7 linked regions of the Homo sapiens genome follow. The protein of the gene in region 6 purifies or fractionates together with the protein of the main gene of each other region. This does not show direct contact. Each region holds a gene or a part of one and is shown on either strand. Other genes may lie near its edges. The genes, in order: YLPM1, ADISSP, LMTK2, TPRN, PPP1R8, PPP1R3A and CNST.

Evidence for each region.
Region 1: the proteins of PPP1R3A (region 6) and YLPM1 purify together in Homo sapiens (affinity purification with mass spectrometry, with the first as the bait; one large-scale study listed by BioGRID). This does not show direct contact.
Region 2: the proteins of PPP1R3A (region 6) and ADISSP purify together in Homo sapiens (affinity purification with mass spectrometry, with the first as the bait; one large-scale study listed by BioGRID). This does not show direct contact.
Region 3: the proteins of PPP1R3A (region 6) and LMTK2 purify together in Homo sapiens (affinity purification with mass spectrometry, with the first as the bait; one large-scale study listed by BioGRID). This does not show direct contact.
Region 4: the proteins of PPP1R3A (region 6) and TPRN purify together in Homo sapiens (affinity purification with mass spectrometry, with the first as the bait; one large-scale study listed by BioGRID). This does not show direct contact.
Region 5: the proteins of PPP1R3A (region 6) and PPP1R8 purify together in Homo sapiens (affinity purification with mass spectrometry, with the first as the bait; one large-scale study listed by BioGRID). This does not show direct contact.
Region 7: the proteins of PPP1R3A (region 6) and CNST purify together in Homo sapiens (affinity purification with mass spectrometry, with the first as the bait; one large-scale study listed by BioGRID). This does not show direct contact.

What each region holds. Positions count from the first base shown.
Region 1 is NC_000014.9:74,769,816-74,773,315, reverse strand, and holds part of YLPM1 (YLP motif-containing protein 1), read right to left. Parts: intron 1,625-3,500; exon of another isoform or gene 1,570-1,624; intron 1-1,569. UniProt on the Homo sapiens protein: Plays a role in the reduction of telomerase activity during differentiation of embryonic stem cells by binding to the core promoter of TERT and controlling its down-regulation.
Region 2 is NC_000020.11:3,761,254-3,764,753, forward strand, and holds part of ADISSP (adipose-secreted signaling protein), read right to left. Parts: intron 1-3,500. UniProt on the Homo sapiens protein: Adipocyte-secreted protein (adipokine) that acts as a key regulator for white adipose tissue (WAT) thermogenesis and glucose homeostasis at least in part through activation of protein kinase A (PKA).
Region 3 is NC_000007.14:98,186,862-98,190,361, reverse strand, and holds part of LMTK2 (serine/threonine-protein kinase LMTK2 precursor), read right to left. Parts: intron 3,486-3,500; coding exon 3,364-3,485; intron 1-3,363. UniProt on the Homo sapiens protein: Phosphorylates PPP1C, phosphorylase b and CFTR.
Region 4 is NC_000009.12:137,194,431-137,197,741, reverse strand, and holds part of TPRN (taperin), read left to right. Parts: intron 1-3,311. UniProt on the Homo sapiens protein: Essential for hearing. Required for maintenance of stereocilia on both inner and outer hair cells. Necessary for the integrity of the stereociliary rootlet.
Region 5 is NC_000001.11:27,847,782-27,849,978, forward strand, and holds part of PPP1R8 (nuclear inhibitor of protein phosphatase 1), read left to right. Parts: intron 1-2,197. UniProt on the Homo sapiens protein: Inhibitor subunit of the major nuclear protein phosphatase-1 (PP-1). It has RNA-binding activity but does not cleave RNA and may target PP-1 to RNA-associated substrates. May also be involved in pre-mRNA splicing.
Region 6 is NC_000007.14:113,912,510-113,916,009, reverse strand, and holds part of PPP1R3A (protein phosphatase 1 regulatory subunit 3A), read left to right. Parts: intron 1-3,500. UniProt on the Homo sapiens protein: Seems to act as a glycogen-targeting subunit for PP1. PP1 is essential for cell division, and participates in the regulation of glycogen metabolism, muscle contractility and protein synthesis.
Region 7 is NC_000001.11:246,593,956-246,597,455, reverse strand, and holds part of CNST (consortin), read right to left. Parts: intron 1-3,500. UniProt on the Homo sapiens protein: Required for targeting of connexins to the plasma membrane.

The sequences.
Region 1 (3,500 bases), on a different chromosome or scaffold from region 6:
GTAGGTCAATTTCTCTTTTTTTTTTCTTGAGATGGAGTCTCGCTCTGTCGCCCAGGCTGGAGCGCAGTGGCGCGATCTCGGCTCACTGCAAGCTCCGCCTCCCGAGTTCACGCCATTCTCCTGCCTCAGCCTCCTGAGTAGTTGGGACTACAGGCGCCCGCCACCACGCCCGGCTAATTTTTTATATTTTTTAGTAGAGACGGGGTTTCACCATGTTAGCCAGGATGGTCTCGATCTCCTGACCTTGTGATCCGCCCACCTCAGCCTCCCAAAGTGCTGGGATTACAGGCGTGAGCCACCGTGCCCGGCCGCCTTGTAGGTCAATTTCTATTTAATATGAACCCTATAAGTAGTAACCAGATCTAATTCAATCCTATGGTAGGCTTCAGCACATTTTTGAAGCTCTGCAAATAAATAATAATGATATCACTCACAAATGTCCTTACTGACCCTAAGAGAAGTGTGATCATCCCTATTTTAGAAAGAAAAAAAATGCCTGAACTTGCTAATGATGCCAGCTCTTCTGAATGTCCCATCATATCAGATAACTCCATTTCATATGGGATGTTGTTTTATAGGTAGAGGGAAATCATAATATAGGTCACATTTAAAACGAGATTGAATGAAGGGATTTCAAACATAAAGAATGTAGAACTATTGGCTGGGTGCGGTGGCTCACATCTGTAATCCCAGCACTTTGGGAGGCCAAGGCGGGCGGATCACAAGGTGAGGAGTTCGAGACCAGCCTGACCAACATGGTGAAACCCTGTCTCTACTAAAAATACAAAACTTAGCTGGGTGTGGTGGCACATGCCTGTAATCCCAGCTACTCGGGAGGCTGAGGCAGGAGAATCGCTTGAACCTGGGAGGCGGAGGTTGCAGTGAGCCCAGATCCTCGCGCCACTGCACTTCAGCCTGGGTGAGAGCGAGACTCCATCTCAAAAAAAAAAAAAAAATTAAGAATATAGAACTATTTGTCACAAATACTGTTATTAAGAAAGATGCTGCCGAGGCACGAATATCGCTTGAGCCCAGGAATTCAGACCAGCCTGGGCAACATGGCAAGATCCCATCTCTCTGAGAAAAAAAAAAAAAAAAGAAAGATGTTGATTTTAATTTACTCAGGAAGCACTTACTGACCACTGCTGCTAGTAATGAACTAGATACTAAATGATTTTCCAAGTGGAGAACTATAAAGGAGGTGAGTGTTTGTGTGTAATGTTTTAAAGATTAATTTTAGAAGATTACCTTCCCTATCCAGGTTATCATAAATGCCTATAAGACAATGTTCTATGTCTTATATTCTAAAGCAGGGGGCAGGGAGGACACCTGGTAAAATAATGAATTGGGTTTCCATTTTAGAAATTTATTTAAAATAGGCTTAAATATTTTTGAGATTCACATTCTACTGTAAGAATCAGGGTCACCAGATAAGCTTAGTCCCCACCTATTTTTATTTTAAATGCTCATTTACTTCATCTATTCCTCCAGCTCCTTCCCTCATTCTCTCTCTCCTTCAGTCAAACTTCTTGAAAGAGTTGTCTGTACTCACCATCCCCATTTCCTCACCTTCCATCACTCCTCAAATCAATGCAATATGGCTTCAGTCACTATGAAACTGCTCCTGCCAAGGTCAACAATAATCTACATGTCAGTAGGTGCAAAAGATAACTCGCAGTCTTTATCTTGCTTGACGTCTCAGCAGTACTTCACACAGCTGACGACTCCCTCCTCCTAGAGTCTGTTCCTTGACGTTCATGGCAACGCACTATCCACTATCTTGATTTTCCACCTATCACACTGGTGCCAAAGTAACTGTGGTTTTGCCATTAAAAGTAATAGCAAAAACTGCAATTACTTTTGCACCAACCTAATATGAATACCTATTTGGCCATTCTTTCATTGGTTCCCTTAGATACTGCTATTTGTGGAGCTAGGCTTAATGTCCTTTAACCTCAGTTCTTACTCTACACACATTCCTTGAGAGGCTTCATCTATTTCTGTGTCTTCAAATACCATTTTTATGCTGATGACTTATAAATCTATGTCTCCCAGATCTTACATCTAGACTCCAGAGCTATATCTAACTTCCAAGTGGACATCTCCATTTGGAATCTATGTCTCAAGAACCCCAAACTCAGTATGTCTGAAACCTAACTCATGATTTTCTCCTCACCCCCAGAAATGTTCTTCCTCCTCCTCCTTTAGGTTTTTCTGTTTTAGTAAATTTGACCACCATCCACCCTACGGCCCAGCCCAGAAACCTAAGAATCATTCTTGATGCCTCCCTCTCCATAACTACTCAACCTCAAAGTGAATTCTAGCAGCTAAATATTTCTCCACTCTTCCCACTTCTCTCCATCTCAACTAATACCATCAAAGTCTAAACCACTATTATCTCTTGCCTGGATTACTTCAATAACTATTCTCTCTAAATCACTCTTGCTCCTTTTAATTCTGCTCTCCACACTGCAAGCAGAGTGAGCTTTCAAAAATGCCAATCTGTCACATTCACCTATGTAAAATCCTTCAATGGCTTCCAACTGCCCTTAGAATGAAGTCCTTACAGGCCTTCCCTGATCTAGTTCATACCTACCATCCTCACCCTGAGCTTTCAGTGAGCCTTATTGAACTTAATTCTTTGAATTCTAACTTCTGGTTAATTTCTACTCTTTTTCTTTTTTTTTAACTGAGATGGAGTCCCACTCTGTCGCCCAGGCTAGAGAGCAGTGGGGCAATCTTGGCTCACTGCAACCTCTGCCTCCTGGGTTCAAGTGATCCTCCCACCTCAGCCTCCCAAGTAGCTGAGATTAAAAGCGTGCACCACCACACCCAGCTAATTTTTTGTATTTGTAGTAGAGACAGAATTTCACCATGTTGGCCAGGCTGGTCTTGAACTCCTGACTTCAAGTGATCCGCCTGCCTTGGCCTCCCAAAGTGCTGAGATTACAGGCATCAGCCACTGCACCTGGCCTACTCATTTTTTTTTTTTTTAGGTCTCACTCTGTTGCCCAGGCTAGAGTGCAGTGGCACGAGAACTCCTGGGCTTAAACAATCCTCCCACCTCAGCCACCCGCAAGTAGCCGGCACTACAGGCATGCAACACCATGCCTGGCTAGGTTTTTTTTTTTTTTGAGTCGGAGTCTCACTCTGTCGCCCAGGCTGGAGTGCAGTGGCGCGATCTCGGCTCACTGCAAGCTCCGCCTCCCGGGTTCACACCATTCTCCTGCCTCAGCTTCCTGAGAAGTTGGGACTACAGGCGCCCACCACCACGCCCGGCTAATTTTTTGTATTTTTAGTAGAGATGGGGTTTCACCATGTTAGCCAGGATGGTCTTGATCTTCTGACCTCGTGATCTGCCCGCCTAGGCCTCCCAAAGTGCTGGGATTACAGGCGTGAGCCACTGCGCCCGGCCACCTGGCTAGTTTTTTAAACTTTTTGTGGGCGGGGGGCGGGGGGGGGGGTGTCTCACTTTGTTGCCCAGGCTGGCCTTGAACTCC
Region 2 (3,500 bases), on a different chromosome or scaffold from region 6:
CTAAACCAGAGGGGAAGGTTGACAGGAAGCAGATACTCACAGGCGCCCAAGCGTCACTGACAGAGGACCTGGTATGGTTTTTGTTTTTTTTTTTTTTCTGAGACGGAGTTTCACTCTTGTCACCCAGGCTGGGATGCAATGGCACGATCTCGGCTAACTGCAACATCTGCCTCCTGGGTTCGAGCGACTCTCCCACCTCAGCATCCCGAGTAGCTGGGACTACAGGCGCCCGCCACCACGCCTAGCTAATTTTTGTATTTTTAGTAGAGACAGGGTTTCACCATGTTGGCCAGGCTGGTCTCGAACTCCTGACCTCAAGCAATCCGCTCACTTCGGCCTCCCAAAGTGTTGGGATTACAGGTGTGAGCCACCATGCCTGGCCGAGGACCTGGTGTTTAAGAGGAATGGCACAAGTTTGCAATGGAGGTATGTGACTTCTCCCAGTCACACACTGGTCTATCTCTCTACTCTCTGCAGGACAGCCTGTCACACTGATGCCTCCTGAAGTAAGGCAGCCCAAAGTCACAGCATCACTGACAAGGGATTCCTGCCAAAAAGGTTTAACCTGGAATCTAAACCAGCCTCTAACTTCAACTTCTCATTTGCTAAAAACACAGAGGAGAGGGGAACAAATTTAATGACTCCATGAGAAAGCAATGAGACGAGCCCAGAAGGCAGGATATTCTACAGGATGACTGACCTGTTTTTTGTTTTTGTTTTTGTTTTCAAATGTCAAGAAGAAAAAGAAAGCAGGCTGGGAACGGTGGCTCACGCCTGTAATCCCAGCACTTTCACGGATCACAAGGTAAGGAGTTCAAGACCAGCCTGGCCAACATAGTGAAACCCAGTCTCTACCAAAAGTACAAAGATTAGCCGGGTGTGGTGGCGGGCAGCTGTAGTCCCAGCTAGTTGGGAGGTTGAGGCAGGAGAATCACTTGAATCCGGAAGGCGGAGGTTGCAGTGAGCCAAGATCGCGCCACGGCACTTCAGCCTGGGTGACACAGCGAGACTCTGTCTCAAGAAAAAAAAAAAAGAAAGAAGAAAAATAAAACGAGGGAGATTATTCTAGATAGGAAAGCAGCAAACTACAGCTGATTACACAGCTGATGGTAAGGTTGCTGCCTGTTGTGTTTTTGTTTTTGTTTTTGAGACAGGGTCTCACTCTGTCCAGCCCAGGCTGGAGTCCAGCTCACTGCCACCGTAATCTCCCAGGCTCAAGCAATCCTCCCACCCCAGCCTGCCAAGTAGCTGAGACCACAGCCACGCACCACCATGCCCGGCTAATTTTTGTAGAGACAGAGTTGCCCAGGCTGGTCTCAAACTCCGGAGCTTAAGCGATCCACCCACCTCAGCCTCCCAAAGTGCTGGGATTACAGACGTGAGCCGCCAGGCCTGGCAAATAAATTTTTGCAAATAAAGTTTTACTAATAGAACACTACACTTCATTCACTTACATGTTGTCTGTTTTTGCACTAAAACAAAGTTACTTCCAAGTAGTTATGATAGAGACCATATGGCCTGCAAAGTCTAAACCATTTATTATTTGGCCCTTCAGAGCAAAAGTTTGCCAACCCTTGTTCTAGATCAACACACACTTAACAGACCAAAAAAGGATAATCTTCAGGACAACTGACCTGTTTTTTTCACCACATCAGCTGCAAGAAGAAAAATAAAGGAGAGGGTGTTTCGAACTACCTATCAAAGAAGACATTTTGGGGGGTGCCGGGCGCTGCGGCTCACACCTGTAATCCCAGCACTTTGGGAAGCCAAGGCGGGTAGATCACCTGAGGTCAGGAGTTTGGGACCAGCCTGGCCAACATGGCGAAACCCCATCTCTACTAAAAATACAAAAATCAGCTAGGCATGGTGGTGTGCACCTGTAATCCCAGCTACTCAGGAGGCTGAGGCAGGAGAATCGCTTGAACCTGGGAGGCGGAGGTTGCAGTGAGCCAAGATCCCGCCACTGCACTCCAGCCTGGGTGACAGAGCGAGACTCTGTCTCAAAAAAAAAAAAAAAAAAAAGGCCGGGTGAGGTGGCTCACGCCTGTAATCACAGCACTGTGGGAGGCTGAGGCGGGCGGATCACCTGAGGTCGGGAGTTCAAGACCAGCCTGGCCAACATGGAGAAACCCTGTCTCTACTAAAAAATACAAAATTAGCCAGGCGTGGTGGCGCATGCCTGTAATCCAGCTACTCGGGAGGCTGAGGCAGGAGAATCGCTTGAACCCAGGAGGCGGAGGTTGCGGTGAGCCGAGATTGCGCCACTGCACTCTAGCCTGGGCAAAAGGAGCAAAACTCCGTCTCAAAAAAAAAAAAAAAAAGACATTTGGGGGATCTGGAAAATGTAAATGGCCTGGATATGAGGTAACACTAAGAAATGAGTTGATCATGGAATTGTATTATGTAAAGAATTATGTCCTTATTTTGTCAGGGAAACATACTGAACAACTTAGAGATGAGTGACACTGGCTCATCAGTCCAGGGACAGAAGAGGAACTACAGGGTGGCCTCATAGTTTAGGGCTGGGCCTGTGGAGGGCATGATCTCAAGGTCCCTCTGGTGCCAAGCTGCTCTGGGAGCAGATGTGGCCTCACCTCGCTCCCCACTTCTCAATGTGGGCAAAGTCCACCCAGGCCCAAGCCCTGCCTCATGGGCAGGGTGTTCACAGTTTGGGTACCACCAGGAGCCCCCTTTGGCCAATGGACCAGGCCAGCAACCCCCTCTTGGAGGTGAGCTTCCAGGCCCCAGCCCAGGGTGCAGGAAGTGGAGCTACACCCATTCACCTCTGGCCAGGGCCACTGTGGGGTCAGTTGCCTCAGCCCTGGAAAGCTCAGCTTGTCCCCAGGGAACTTGGTCTTGGAGAGCAGCCTGCCGTAACCGCCCCCCGACTACAGCTGCCCCCAAAGCTGTGAACTCAGAGTATATGACAAATGGCCAAGCACAAGAGTGTGAGGCCCTCCTATCCTGCAGAGGCTGCTCCAGCCACACCTCTGCAGCCAGGAGGCAGTGACAGCCCAGTGTCCTCAAGGTCCCCCCATCTCCCAGGATGCTTCCTGAAGGCTCTGGTTAAACTGCACCAGTGGCTGGTGAGCAAAGGCTGCAGGCCCTTTTCACAAAACACTCTGAACTGGTCCATGCAGGGCACCCTCCCTGTCTTCCTCCCAACCTACTGCCTGACCGTCCCCCCGCCCTGCCTTTGCCCAGGTCATCCCTTCAGCCAGGAACAATCCCGTCCCTCCCAGCCACACCTTCGACAGGGTCTCAGCCCCAACATTTCTTTTTTAAGGATGCACACCCTGCAAATCCCAGGACAGGACTACAGCTCTTTTTGGAATCCCCTTTCTCATGTCTGGGATCATTTGATATCCCTCTTCCTCACCTTACAAGGGTAGTGACTGTGTTTTTGTCAAACCCTGTGTCCCCGGCACTCAGCGCAGCACCAGACAGGGAGGAGCTGTGTTTGGTTTATGTTTGTTGAATGAATGACCACATCACATTTG
Region 3 (3,500 bases), about 16 Mb from region 6:
GATCCACCTGCCTTGGCCTTCCAAAGTGCTGAGATTACAGGCGTGAGCCACCACAACCAGCCAAGATTGTTCTTTAATCTGAAACCAATAATCAACAGCACAATAGCAAAAAAAGAGGCATTTCTGTTAAAATGAGGAAGACCATGCCTCCTATTTGCTACTGAATACCACCCTAGAAGTTTTGGCCAATGAAAAAAGTACAAAACAGAGATAATAGGTGTAATTATGTGGATGAGATGACTATCAACTTTTAAGTACTCAATAAATTATTGGAAAGACCATCAGAATGTTCTAAAAATTTGGCAGAATTGCTGGAAACAAGATAAATACCCTGAATTCTGATTTTTTTTTTTTGGTAGAAAAATACACCTATTAACAACATTAGTAAACACCAGAAACCATCTAAAAGGAATCTTTACATGGGCAAGACGATATCCTCTCTGTGAGACCCACAAGTTTGGTTTGAGTTACTCCTCAGTATCGTGGGTTTTGCTGCTATTCTGAAGGGATCCCCCATCACGCTGGCAGCTGTGTGCCAGGAGAGACCCTGAGGGCTGCCTCACCACAGCAGGAACGCCCTTCTCAGTCCCAGCCCAATCCTCTCTCACACTGCGGTGCTCTGTCCCCATGGAAACAGCCTCTGCTGGCTTCCTGGGTCAGAGGAGCTGCCTCTCATTTCCTCCACGAGGTCTCTGCATTTCCTCCCCACCACGCACTGCCTCCATCCCGCATTTGTGTCTATTTACTGCAATGTTCCCGAACGTGACTCTCATCTGTGTCCTCTGGGAAGCCGTGAACACACACACTGCTAGGTCAGATCCACCCCTAAAGGATGCTTAGTTGGTAGATCCAGGTGTGGCCTAGAAAACTCACGTTTTAAAAAGTTCCCCAGTGATTCTGATGTCCAGCTAACCCTCCACGACACGCCCCAAACAACAAAGAAGCAACTACATTTTGACAAAAATCACTAAAGGAGAGCACCAGAGCCCATCAAAGGAGTAACAGGTACTCAGGAGATTCAGGACAGCCACAGCGAGAGCGGAAGGAAACGCCTGGCCTCCACCACCCCATCCCTGGCAGGCGCAGCCAGGAACCAGGAGCAACTTTCTCTTCCAGGTAAGGGCAAGTAAGAGGATCTCACTGTGGACCCCTACATCCTCACACTGCTCACCGTGGACACTACAGTCCTCACACTGGGGTCGCCTGGGGTCCTCACAGGCAGTAAGCCCAGCTGAAGAATTCAATAAATGAAATAAAAAGAAATACAGAACTTCAACAACAGACTCAAGCAGAAGAACCTCTCAACTTGAAGAAAGGTTGTTTGAAATCACCCAGTCAGAGGGAAAAAGACAGAAGAATGAAAAGGAGTGAAGGGAGGCTTCAGGGCTTATGGGAGACTACAGTGCAAACAAATACACACATTATGGGAGTTACAGAAATAAAAGAGCTAGGAGAAGGCAGAGAAAGGCTATTTAAGGAAAGAACAGCTTAAAAACTTCCCAAGTCTTGGGAGAGATACAGACATCCAGATCCAGGAAGCTCAAAGGTCCTTAAAATACAATCAACCCCAAAAGGTCATTTCAGAGGCACATTATAGTCAAATTGTCAAAAGCCAAAGACAAAGATAAAAATTCTAAAAACAGCCAGAGAAAAGCATTAAGTCACATAGGAGGGAAGCAGAGAATAGGATGGTATACTCAAAGTACTGAAATTGGCAGCCAAGAACACTATGCCCTGCAAAGATATCCTTCGGAAATGAAGGAGGGTTGGGCGCGATGGCTCATGACTATAATCCCAGCACTCTAGGAGACTAAGGCATGAGGATTGCTTGGGGCCAGGAGTTCAAGACCAGCCTGGGCAACACAGCATGACCTCGTCTCTACTAAAAAAATATATATAATAATAACTTTTTTTAAAAAATGGAGAAATAAAGTCTTTCCCAGATAAGCAAAAACTGAAGGAATTCATCATTATGAGACATGCCTTAAGAGAAATGGTCCAGGAGTCCTGTATCTGGAAGCTAAAGGAGGATAACCATCAACATGAAAAAACACAGAAGTATCAGACTCACGATACACTAGGTAGAGCAGATACACAAGGGGGAAAGAAAAAGGAAGAAAACCTCATCACTCGTGGAAGATAAAAAGGTTGATCTCATAGAAGTAGAGAGTAGAAGAGTGATTACTTGAGGCAGGGAAGGGGAGGGAGAGGAGGAATAGTGAGAAGCTGACTAACGAATACAAAATTTCGGCTGGGAAGGAGGAATAAGATCTAGTGTTCTAAAGCACTGAAGGGTGACTATAATTAACAACAAATTTTTGTATATTTTCAAACAGCTCTAAGAGCGGCTTTTGAATGTTCCCAAAAACAAAAAGAAAAAATGATACATGTCTGGAGTGAAGGGGATACTAGTTACCCTGATTTGATCATCACACACTGTATATAGGTATCAAAATATTACACTGGGCCAGGTGCGGTGGCTCACGCCTGTAATCCCAGTACTTTGGGAGGACGAGGCAGGCGGATCACTTGAGTTCAGGAGTTCGAGACCAGCCATGGCAAAACTCCATCTCTACTAAAAGTACAAAAATGGTGTGGTAGTACATATTGGTAATCCCAATTACTCGGGAGGCTGAGGCACAAGAATTACTTGAACCAGGGAGGTGGACACTGCAGTGAGCCGTGAGCCGAGACTACACCACTGTACTCCAGCCTGGGCGACAGTGAGACTCTATCTCAAAACAACAACAACAACAACAACAACAAAAACATATATATATATCACTGTACCCCATAAATATGTCCAATTATATGCATCAATGAAAAAAATAATAAAAGCAAAAAAATTGTTTTAAAGAAATCAATCCAAAAGAAAGCAAGGAGAGAAAAAAAAAAGCAGGACAACAGCACATAAAACATAGCTATAAATTAAGAAGGCTGTGACAGAAATTGTTAGTCAAAGTTTTAGGTGCATCTTTTTAGCTCCCATTAAACTGACTCCTATAAATCATAGTATAAACATGATAGTCCACACCCCTTTCAGTTTCTTCTTTCACTTCAATAAATACATATTAAATATCTATTACATGTCAGGCCCTGTGGGAGGCACAGAATATGAAACAGACTTGGTTCCTGCTTTTCTAAAGGAAAATGGGTAGCAGGGGCAGTATTCAAAACGTTAACTCCATCACCACAATTGTGATAATTACTATTTGTGTCTTTTAAACTGTCTTTTTCACACCATCAGATACTCTTTTGTTCCTACATCTTATACAACTACTTTCCTTTAAGGAAGTACTCAAAGAGGAAGAAGTTAGGACTTTGCCAAAGAAATGACTAATAAAACGGTAAGCCAATACGTACCAGATATTACTATACTTAGTCTGATCTGCAGTTAGCAGTCTGTCTTGAAAGCTGGTTACTAATTCTGGAGCAGTCCATCGCAGAGGGAAAACTTTTTTATCATCTGTTTCAATATAATCCTCCTGTTTTGTTAGAAA
Region 4 (3,311 bases), on a different chromosome or scaffold from region 6:
TCAGTCTGATAGCCACAGCCTCTCTCCTCCAGCTCCTGTCTGCCTCTCCCTCCCCTGCGTCTGTACCTTTGGCCCTGGCTGCTGTGTGAGGTGGGCACCTCCTGGGCTTGCCCCAGAGGTGGCAGTGGGGACAGCTCCCCCTTTGTAGAGAGAAACTGCGCCTCAGCTTGGGAGTCAGACGGGGTCATGGGGCTTGTGGGGCGAGTACGGAGTTCAGGTTTCTGTTTCTAGAACCCCTCCCCTTAACCTGTGTGGCCATCCCTGGGAGCCTGGCTTCTTCCTGGGACTTGAGGCCACTGCCTAGAGTCTGGCCATCTTGCCCTCAGAAGGGACAGAACTGGGCTGGGCGCGGTGGCTCACACCTTGTAATCCCAGCACTTTGGGAGGCCGAGGCGGGTGGATCACGAGGTCAGGAGTTCAAGACAAGCCTTGCCAAGGTGGTGAAACCCCGTCTCTACTAAGAAGATATAAAAAAATTAGCTGGGCGTGGTGGCGGGCGCCTATAATCCCAGCTATTCAGGAGACTGAGGCAGGAGAATTGCTTGAACCCGGGAGGCGGAGCTTGCAGTGAGCCGAGATCGCGCCATTGCACTCCAGCCTGGGCGACAGAGTGAGACTCTGTCTCAAAAAGAAAAAAGCAAAGAAGGGACAGAACTGTGGGGGTCATTTGCGGCTGGGTTAGGGTCAGAAGGGCAGGGTGGGGGCCGGAGGGCCAACAGGAGCAGGAAGATGCAGTGGGGGAGAGGCTGAGCCTGGGAAACAGGCCCTGGACCAGCAGGAGGGAGGAGCTCGGGCCAGCCTGAAGGGGTGGGGGTCCAGATGGACGATACCTGGCATGGCCAGGTGGCCCGGGCAGGGCCCTGCCAGAGCAGCATGACCTGCTGGCTGTGACTTCCCGCCTGGGTACAGGCCAGCTGCCCTGCCTGGGAAGAGCCAGAATGTCCATCAGGAGGGGACAGAGGCGTGGGGCTGCCCTGCCTTTCAGAATGGCTTGCTGGCCTCGGCACGGTGGGCTGTGGGGCAGGGCTGTCCCATGTACTCTGTGGCCCCTGGGCCAGGAGCACTCACTGGTGGGGGTGCGAGGTGCCCCTGCGGGTCCTGTGCCTGGCCTTGTCTGACCACCCTGGCCAGCCTTTTTTTATTTTTTGTTTTTTGAGACAGAGTCTTGCTCTGTCGCCCAGGCTGGAGGGTAGTGGCAGGATCCCGGCTCAGGGCAAACTTCATCTCCCAGGGTTCAAGCGATTCTCCTGCCTCAGCCTCTCAAGTAGCTGGGATTACAGGCGCCTGCCACCATGCCCAGCTAATTATCGTATTTTTAGTAGAGACGAGGTTTTACCATATTGGCCAGGTTGGTCTCGAACTCCTGACCTCAGATGATCCGCCTGCCTTAGCCTCCCAAAGTGCTGGGATTACAGGCGTGAGCCACCGTGCTGACCCCAGCCTTTGGTTGGGACCACTGGCTGTGACCCCCGGGCGTGGGGGTGGAGTGCAGGGATTGCAGGGCCCGGAGTCTAGCAGGACCTGACTGTGGGCCAACGGCTCACTGTGCACCTCAGCGGCTGGCGGTGCTGCTGCTTTTCCTGGGGTACAGGTGAAGGGCAGCTCTTCAGTGGAGTTGTCTGGGTGGTGGGAGTCGGTGAGGGGCCTGCCCCAGGGCTGGCTGTGCCTGCACAGGGTATGATACCCTTGCCCGCCTCCGAGGGGTGCAGCCCTGCTCTGGGCAGTGGGGAGCTGCTGGCCTGTGTGCCGGGGTGGGGGCCTGCCTGGCAGGCACAGGCCCACTTAAGTTATCCATTGGCAGAAGCGGCAGGTGCCCCGTCTTGCAGGGCTGAGCTTGGAGCAGACTGCTGTGTGCTGCAGCCACGCCCGGGCTGCTTTCCTGGAGGGTGGGACACCCATTCTCATCCTCACACCTGCCTCCCTTGAGACTCGGCGCTGTAGCTTTTCCTCTTCGTGGAGCACCACCTGGCCTGGCTCCTACCTGTCTGGCGGCCCCTTCCCGTCCCCTCTGCCCTACTCCCCTCCTCCCCTCTTGGCTCTCTGCCCAGCTGGAGCGTGTCAGTGTCCCCAGGGCTCAGTCCTGGACACCCAGGGCCGTCCGCCCTCACCTGCTGTGCAACTTCCGCCTCCACTCCCAAGGCCTCGCTCTCTGATCCTTAGACCCAAGAGCCACCCTGACATCTGCCCTTCCTACTGACACCACCTCCTGGCCAGCACCAAGCCCCAGGCTGGGCTCCTCCCTGCCTCTACCCCTGTGCAGGCAGATCCTGGGTGGCCAGAGGCTCTCACTGTTGTTGGCTGAGTCCCTTCTTGTCAGTTTTCCTTTCCTTCTCGTCTCTCCGCCAGCTCTTCCCATAGGTGCCGCCTAGGTGGTCCTTCTGAAGCCGGGAACCCCAGGAGCGGCCTGGACGCTCCTCCCTCAGCTTTCTCATGGGTGGAGGCCGTGCCTGGCGCTGGGGCCACACTTGACTCAGGGAGCACCCAGCTTCCCGGGAGCCTGCTCTGGGCATTGCACTCGTGCAGCCTGGTCTAGGGTCCGGCCACCCGTGGGAGCCTTGGCTGGGGCTGCGTGGGGGATGGGAGGCAGGTAGCTGTGTGCAGGGAGGAGGGAGAGGCGGGGCTGGGCTCAGCTCACACCTCCATCTGGGCAGGTTGGGGCTGGCTGCTTGGCCCTTTGTCCCAGGTGGAGGCCAGGCCCTTTGGTAACCAAAGCTAGGTGTGCACAGGCAGGGTGGGTGGAGCGAGAACAGAAGGGTCCTGAGAAGCCGGGAGGCTCTGCTGGGAGGCTGGGCTGAGCTGGGACCCACCTGCCTGCTCTGTTGGCTGTGCCAGGCAAAGTCCCTGATAGGCTGCGGCCAGGTGCGTGCGGTCCCAGACCCTGGCCACACCCTCTGCCCATCCTGCGTCTCGGGGTCTTCAGGCTGCCCACCGTATGAGTCACGGGGTGTCCTGTCCCCACAGTGGGAGGGGAGGGCTGTGCGAGTCAGCAGGCACCAGCCCAGCTGAGGAGACCTGGGGAGGCAGGACGTGACCAGAGCCCCGGGCCCCAGCTGAGGGCAGACAGGGGCTGCCTGTCCACCCCCCGCCCCGCACCGCCTGGCCAGGCTGTACCAGGCTCAGGGCCCATGTGCACCCAGCCCCCGCGGCCCCCCTGCTGGGACCGGTCATGTGCACGAGTGAGGGCACTAATCCCGCGGCCCTGGCAGCCAGCCCTTCTGTGTTCTCAGCCGTGGGGGCTGGGCCTGGAGGGCTTCGGGGTCATCTGGGTTAGCTCCACATATCCAGGGCGACTGGAAACCCCATTTGCTGCT
Region 5 (2,197 bases), on a different chromosome or scaffold from region 6:
AAATACATACCATGCTCCTCTCCCATTTCTCATTCTGTGGAAATGAAATCTATGTTTAGGGAATCCTGGAGTACCACAGAAAGGCTGTAGATAACTAGCCAGCTTGATGTTTCATGTAAATAATGTGCAATATGAATCTGTAAATTCATTTTCCAGAGGGGTGCAGAGAGAGGCCCACCTTCTTTTGGCCTTTCTCTTCGGACTCAAAGTAAGCTATTAGGTGGAGGAGATGCATTATTGCAATACCACACAGTTTGCCATGCCTTTATTTTATGAGTGGCAATGGCACAGATAGGAATGTCAGCCCAGATGTGGATTAAATTTAAAGATAAGTATGTTGGCTGGGTGCGGTGGCTCACGCCTGTAATCCCAGCACTTTGGGAGGCCGAGGTGGGCAGATTACAAGGTCAGGAGATCGAGACCATCCTGGCGAACACGGTGAAACCCCGTCGCTACTGAAAATACAAAAAAAAATTAGTTGGGCGTGGTGGTGGGCGCCTATAGTCCCAGCTACTCAGGAGGCTGAGGCAGGAGAATGGCGTGAACCCGGGGGGCAGAGCTTGCAGTGAGCCGAGATCACACCACTGCACTCCAGCCTGGTCGTCAGCGAGACTCCATCTAAATAAAAAAGATTGTATGTTGAAGAACCAAGGGGTAGAAGTTACAGAGATGCTCCGATCGTTCAGCATGTGGAAGAACTATCAGATAGCTAGAACTGTCCAAACAGCAACAAACTTCCCCTTAAGAGTAGTGAGATCCCTGTTAATATTCAGAAGGTGATTAGAAAATGCTGGTTAGAGATGATATAGAAAGTTTTACTTTTTATAAAAAAAAAATCTCTAAAATATATTAGACTAAGTAAGATCTGTCAGAGTTCCTGCTTAGACTTTGTTTAATCCAAAAGGAGTATAGGATTGAGCAGGATGTTTCATGAGCTTTAGTCTAGTATGGAAAAGTAGATGTTTTTCTGTGGGATTCCATAATGCCCCTTGAGCTTTTTTGTTTGTTTGTTATTCCTTTGGAATGTTTTCTTGTCATTAAAGTACAAAATCAACAGGTGTATAGTTTTATGTCAATTTTATTGCAGTATAATTTACATATAATAAAATCTACACATTTACGTATATAGTTTTGGCAAATATATGTGTAACCACCACCATAATCAAGATAGAGAAGATTTCTCTCACTCCAAAAAGTTGCCTCGTAGCCCTTTGCAGCAGCCCACTCCCAGGCCCAGGCAGCCAGTAAATATTTTCTTCACTGTAGATTGGTTTTGCTCTCAGATTAATGTTTAAAAATTGGACACCAGGTCGGGCGTGCTGGGTCACGCCTGTAATCCCAGCACTTTGGGAGGCCGAGGCGGGCTGATCACCTGAGGTCCGGAGTTCAAGACCAGCCTGACCAACATGGAGAAACCCTGTCTCTACTAAAAATACAAAATTAGCCAGGCGTGGTGGCGCATGCCTGTAATCCCAGCTACTCCGGAGGCTGAGGCAGGAGAATGGCTTGAACCCGGGAGGCAGAAGTTGCTGTGAGCTGAGATCGAGCCATTACACTCCAGCCTGGGCAACAAGAGTGAAACTCTGTCTCAAAAAAAAAAAAAAAAAAAAATTGCACACCAAACATGGACATACCACATTTTTTCCCCCTCAAAAAAGGGTAAAATATCTATTGCCATCTTTTATCATTTCCATTTCCTAAAAGGGATTTTTTTAAAAATGTTTTTTATTTTTGAGACAGAGTCTTACTCTGTCACCCAGGCTGCAGTGCAGTGGCACCATCTCAGCTCATTGCAAACTCTGCCTCAAGTGATTCTTGTGCCTCAGCCTCCCGAGTAGCTGTGATTACAGGCACCTGCCACCACGCCTGGCTAATTTTTGTATTTTTAGTAGAGATGGGGTTTTGCCATGTTGGCCAGGCTGGTCTCAAACTCCTGATCTCATGTGTTCCTCCTAAAAGGGCATTTTAATATGAAATAAGAAAGTGAGCTATGTAACTTTAGGATAAATTAAATTGATATGTTTTACTTTATGTAAAACTCACAACACCATCCTTGGCTGATGTAGGATGGTGAAAACTTTGTTATGGAGCAGTGTTTGGGAACCATCGTAGATGACTGGAAAGGTCTCTTCAAACCGTAAGATTTCAACATCATGAAATAGGTTGTCTGGAAAGGAGAACAGGCTAGAAGTTAGGA
Region 6 (3,500 bases):
AGAACAGCATGTGCCATAATAGAATATTTATACAGCTTTTCCATGATATAATTTATATGCAATGGGGTTTCAAATATTCCTAAAACTCACACAAGAGAGCATTATCAAATTTCTAAATGAATATTGCAGTTGGATTTTATTGTGAAGAGTTTGGTTAGAGAAAAATAGCACACCTTATCGGTGTTATTTTACAAAATGTGTACTTGACTAAAATAAAAATGAACTAATACTTATTTGATCAAAAATTATAGCTACTAAAATCTCTTCTCTCCAAATAGTTACAGAATCTAAATGGGTCATTTCTGAGCATTTCTACACTTCCTATGTAGCTTAATTTGGAGGTTATTTCTTTCAGAAGGTAAAAACAGAATATATATATGTATATATATGTATGTGTATATATATGTATATGTATATATGTATGTATATGTATGTATATATGTATATGTATATATGTATATACATATACATACATATATATATATGATTTTTTCTTTATACCTGCAAATAGATTAGTAATAGTATGTAATATCAGTCATAGCTAAAATGAAAATCAGGCTGCCCTAGTGTAGAGAATAACAGCTAACTTCAATTCTTCTTAATAAAAAAGTTAATTTGCTATCAGGGTGCCTGAGATTGTATCTTCTGAAAGTGTCAATAATCCCTTCTAATAAGTATGGAATGAATGAATGTGGAAATACATTTAGGTAGGATTTCTGTTAAGTCAATCACCCACCCAGGCATTATGTTTTCTCTATGGAGATTTTTCTCATGTTAAGAGTTTGCAAATCTCCACATTGGTGTGGGTTGTCTATTTTCTTTTGATGCCTGATAGTCTGTACACTTTGGACAGAAAGAAATATGTAGAGAGAAGGGGAGGCAGAGCTTGTAACTCATAGGCATGTGATTGAGAGTGACCCAAAGATATTTAATTGCACCGAAAGGCATGCATCATGAGATACTTAAGTATCACCACATATGCTAGCAAACTAAGCAGATTCCTGATATATCTGATGGGTTTTATTTTAAAATCAATGACAAAAATGACATTGATATAAATCACATTAAATGTACATAGACAAATAAGCTAAAATGGCATGCAAAACAATATAACCTCAAAGTTAGGATTTTAGGCTTCAAAGTTAAAGATATCTGAGTTTGAATCCAAGCTCTCCTACATGCTAGCAATATGAACTTGGGCAAGTTAAGCTTGTTTTTCTGGTATGTTAATTGAGAACAACTACAGCTCTATCTCATAGGGGTTGAGATTTCGGTGAAGTAATACATATAAACTTTTAGCACAGTGTCTGGAACATAATAAGTTATCAGTAAATGTTAACTGCTGTAAAAAGACAATGGTAACTTCAGCTTTAGGTGTATCTGAAAAACTGCAAGGCTCAAGCTGCACCAAAGTTCTTCTCCTCTTTCATTTCAGGGCTTCTAAATTTTCAGCTTTGGAGAGCCATTCCTTTGTCTCTTGCAAGATTTTAATCAACAAGGAAGACTAACTGAACTGTAAATTTTCTTGAGAAATGTGTCACTTTATATATGAATTATCTTAAAGCTGGAAGAGAACTTAGGAATGTTAAAATTTCCACATTTAATAGATGAAAAAATGAAGAACTAGACCAAAAGGGATAAAAAGGCATTCATTTAGGATTGAACAGACATGCATATTAATTTCAGTAAAGTTTACACTTAGTAGCTATGTGGCTGTGGGCATATTACTTCAGAGCTCAAAGCCTCAGTTTATTCACCTGTCAAATAAGGGTCATGATGTCTAGTGTCACATTGATTAAAATAAGTTTATATACTTAAAGCTTTTAATATAGCATGTTAGACACACATGAGGATATCATCAAAAGCCCTTCATCACAATTGTCCCTTTTATTATCAAATCTTGTTCAGCTAATGTCCTGACTCTTGAACTTGCATTATTTCTCCATACATCATAGGTTTCCTTGTTTCAGGCTCCAAAACTTATTCAACAAATGTTTACTAAAGAACTGTATGTCAGGTTCTGAGTTGTTAGGCAGCAGTATCGATAACTGAGAAATGTGGCTGGAGACAGGCGCCTGTGAAGACAAGAAGAGGCCCCAAGGGAAAAGGCCTTGAAAAGCAGAGAGAAATGAAGGGAAGAGAGAAAACACCAAAACCAAGTTCAGATTCTCTGGGTATACAGTAGAAGCCATAGATAAAAAATGAAATAAGAATTATTTCCACTTGAGGTTTTCTAGAATATGTGACCTAGAGCTGACACTGTGTACTTACTGGCCTGGGGGGTGGTCTCCCTTCTCAGCATCTTGGCTTTTTTTCCCCACTGCCTGCTAAATGTATGTTCCTAATGGCTGGGTACACCGGTTGAGTTCATCTGGTTTTGTATTTTATTAAGTGAAACCAATTTATTATTTTAAGTAAAGAAACTGCATGATATAGGTGTTTGATGGTATTTATAACTTGGCCAGGTGAATGCAAATAAAGTCCTAAATGACTTTAATGCCAAAGGAGAAAATTGATTAGTCCTCAATTTTTGTACTGTAGGAAAAAAACCAGGTACGTTCAGGAACAGGAAAGAGAGAACTCCTTTCTAAAACATAATTTTAAGAATACAGAGGGTTTATCTTTCAGGGTGGTAAAATTGTGAAAATGAGGCCAAGAAAAGCATTGGGAAATGGGGTCTAAGATATGGCTACATTGTGTGTTTCAGTCAGAGCTGTTGGATTGTGAGACTTCCTTAATTTACGCATACAGTATAATCTGGGGTCCTGGAAATAGTCCAAAGAGGTGTAAATAGCCCCACGAGGCCTTTGGGACCTCACGTATGCCATAACTAACTCGTTTTGAGTCCACACTAATTGTGGAAGCTGGGTCTGTTTAAGGAGGGACCTCTGGCAAGGCCACGTGGAAACATAAAACACAGCTGTGCAGGGCCCATCAGGAGGGTGTTTGAAAGCAGCCAGCTGGTTGACAGCGAGGTGCCAACTGGCTTCAAGTTTCCTTGGAGGTCCACCAAGGCTTCATGGTTTCCTGGTTTTGTGGAAATCCATACCCCATCCTAGACTTTCCCTAGAGTGATTTTGAAACTTTTCTGAGAGAAGAGGAACAAAAGGGTATCCTCCTTCAGGGTGTCTCTCATGCTGTGGCTGAAAGGAGTCACTATGAATGCCATGCCTCAAATGGATCCTCTGGGATCTCTGAGAGCCTATCCCTCCCCACCTGAAGCCCATCTGCAGCCTGTAAAAATAAAGCAGAGCCCACTATTTCTGAGCCAAAAATGCTCCTGGCAAAAAAAGAAAAGAAAAGAAAAAAGGAAGAAGAAAAAGATGGCACCGTTATGAAGTGGGTCAACTTAGTTTTTCACCTTCCTCCACTTCTGCTAACTGTGACTCTCATCCCTATTCCAGGTTTTTACCCCTACCCCTCAACAGGAAATAATGCAGGGGAAAAGACCTCAAGGGCAGATATCTGAAGTGGATCCGATTGCCCAGGGCCCTATCAAA
Region 7 (3,500 bases), on a different chromosome or scaffold from region 6:
ATCTAAACTTGTCTCATACAAATATACAAACTTTATGGGACAGTGGTAGCCACCGCTTGGGGAAGGGAAGAATGAGGAGTGACTGCTAATGGGTACGTGATTTCTTCCTGGAGGATAAAATGTTCTGGAATTAAATTGTACAACTTTGTGAATATACTAAAACCACTAAATTGTACCCTTTAAAAAGGTGAATTTTATGGTATACGAATTACAAGTTTTTTAAAACTACATGGAGATAATCAAATAGTCAGATATTAACAGGTGTTGGTGAAGATGGAGAGAAACTGTAACCCTCATACAGTGCTGGCAGGACTGTAAAATGGTGCAGTTGCTTTGGAAAACTGTTTGGCATAAAGTTACCATATGATCCAGCAATTCCACTCCTAGAGATATATAACGAAGAGAAATGAAAACACATGTCTCTACAAAAACTTGTACAGCAATGTCCATAGAATAGTCAAAAAGTGGAAAGAACCCAAACATCCCTCAGCTGATGTATAAATGAAATACGGTCTATCCATGCAACAGAATATTATCTGACCACAAAAAGGAACAAAGTACTGATATATGCTACAAAATGGGTCAACCATGAAAACATGTTAAATGAAAGAAGCCAGTCAAAGACCTTCTATTGTATGATTCCACTAATATGCAATGTTCAGAGTAGACAAATCTGTAGAAAAAGTAAGTAGATTAATGGCTGCCTCAGGTTAGGATGTCTAAGTGGAAGTAAGAAGTGGGTGCTAATATGTAAGTGGCTGCTTTGTGTGGTGAAGAAAACATACTAAAATTGACTGCTGATGGTTACACATCCCTGTGAGTATACCAAAAATCAGTGAATTATATATTTTAAGTAGGTGAATTGCATGTATATGAATTACATCTTAATAAAACTGTTTAAAAAACACATTAATTTCCATTGTTTTTCTCCCCCCAGGTAAGAATGTGAAAAATAATAATAAATAAGTAATGGTCATTAGTTTTTAGGATAATATTTACCTAAAGCTTTGCCATTTTAACTACAGTGAAAAATTTTTTCTTTTTCTTTTTTTTTTTTTGAGACAGGATCTCACTCTGTCTCCAAGTTGGGGTGCAGTGGTGCAACCATGCAGCTCACTGCTGCTGTGATCCTCCCACCTCAGCCTCCCAAGTAGCTGGGACTACAGGCACGTGCCACCATGCCCAGCTAATTATTTTACTTTTTGTAGAGATGAGGTCTCCCTGTGTTGCCCAGGCTGGTCACAAACTCCTTGGCTCAAGCAATCCTCCACCTTGGCTTCTTAAAGTGCTACAATTATAGGCATGAGCCAGTGCACCCGCCCTATAATGAAAACTTGTTGTAACACAGCTTGAAATCCTGCTTAGTTAAGCATATCAAGGGGATTCAATTCTCTTAAGGGGGAAAAAAAAAAGCTCATTATATGATGACAACTGGACTTCCCTGAGGCTAAGATCAAGGTTTTACCCATTGACACAAATACTGCCTCCAGCAAACCCATAAACAGTGACATGTCTCCTAATGACATGACTATTAGGAATGACATGACTATTAGTGACAAGAGTCCTGCACTATCATTTTTTTTCCAGTACTAGCCTTTGGACAGTAGTAATTGAAAAATGACTACAAATTAAACTAGACAAGGGAGCATAGAGTGAATAAATTTACTTTATTTTACATGTTCTTTTTTTTGGTCTTTTTTTTCTTTATTTTTATATTTTACATTTTCTAAAAAGTGTTACAAGAACATCTACCTACAAAAAACTGCATTTCTGGTTTGCAACTGAATATCATGTTTTTTATATGTCATTTCACATTTGAGAAGCTATTCAATTATTAGAAAAGTACACGTCTGAAAAATTTGAAACTTTATTTACTTAGGAGCTAAGAATTTAACCGAAAAATTAGAGTAAACACATCCTTGTCTAAACTCCTATGCATAAACTCTTTGCATTATTTTTGACATGGAGGATGGAAGCAAGATGGGAAACAAATGTAGGGGGCTTTTGCAGTACTCCAGCTGAAGATGCTGCTGAACTGTGGCAGTGAAGATGGAGAGAAACAGACTGACTTGAGAGATCACAGGGAGATAACATTACTCAGACCGGGTGATGGATACGTACTGAGAGACGACAGGCTGAAGCAAGTTCTTAGGGTGGGGTCCCAGCAACTAAACTCTGAGGGAAGCTTTCCAGGCAATACTAAAGCTTCTTCCCATTCTAGGTCTCTTCCACATCTAGAAAGGATTAATTCCACACCCAAAAGAATCCTATTCAGTTTAAAATTAAGGGTCCCCCATCTCAAACACCTGTGCCCTGCTAACTCACCCCAGGACACTCAGTCCCGCCTCGTCCATGGCCAGCCCGGGCAGACAGGAGTATCCTTTCTTTTAATTTATCAACAAAACTTAAAAGACAAACAAAAATGTATCTGTAAAATATAAAAACTCTATAGATGCACTAGAGGTGAATCACCACATTTTATTCAAGTATAGAGTATACCATCTCTACTATGAAATCTAAGAAACTCACAGCTTAAAAAGGAATTTCATAGATTTAGGTAGATGAAGATCATCATTATACAGACGACAACAACAAGGTAGAGACTGCTTCAGTCTCACCAAGTGACCTGGAATCATAAGATTTGTACTTGGGTTTTATAACTCCTCATTCTGTTTTCTTACTCTTTTGAGACAAGGTCTGGCACTATCGCCTAGACTGGAGTGCAGTGGCAGGATCTTGGCTCACTGCAACCTCCGCCTCCCAGGCTCAAACCATTCTCTCACCTCAGCCTCCCAAGTAGCTGGGACTACAGGTGCATGCCACCAGGCCCAGCTAATTTTTGTATTTTTTTAGAGATGGGGTTTCACCATGTTGGCCAGGCTGGTCTCGAACTCCTGAGCGCAAGTGATCTGCCCTGTCAGCCTCCCAAAGTGCTGGGATTACAGGTGTGAGCCACCACGCCTGGCCTTTCTTACTCTCTTAAACTCACTTTATATAAGATATAGAAAATAATGTTTAAAGTAAGCTGTATAAAGACTATCCCTAGATTTTATAAATCATATGTTTCAAATGCATTAGGGAATAGTAATTCTAAACATATCTTCTCACAGTATTATAAATACTAAATAACTTTAAATTATAAGCTGGGCCCACTGGTGTATACCTGTAGTCCCAGGTACTCAAGAAGCTGAGATAAAAGGATCACTTGAACCCAGGAGTTTGAAACTAACCTGGGCAAGGTAGCATGATCCTGTCTCTAAAATAAATATAATAATAATATAATCACACCTAAGAAAAGTGGAATAAAGACCATGGAAGGGAGGAGTAAAAGGACTCACAATCTTAAAGCTATGACTGACTCATAGGTATGCAACTAAGTATCAGTTCTTAAAGACATCACAAGATGCCTGTAATCCCAACACTTTGGGAGGCCTAGGCAGGAGGATCGCTTGAGGCCAGAAATTCAAGATCAGCCTGGGCAACAGTGCGAGATTCTTTAT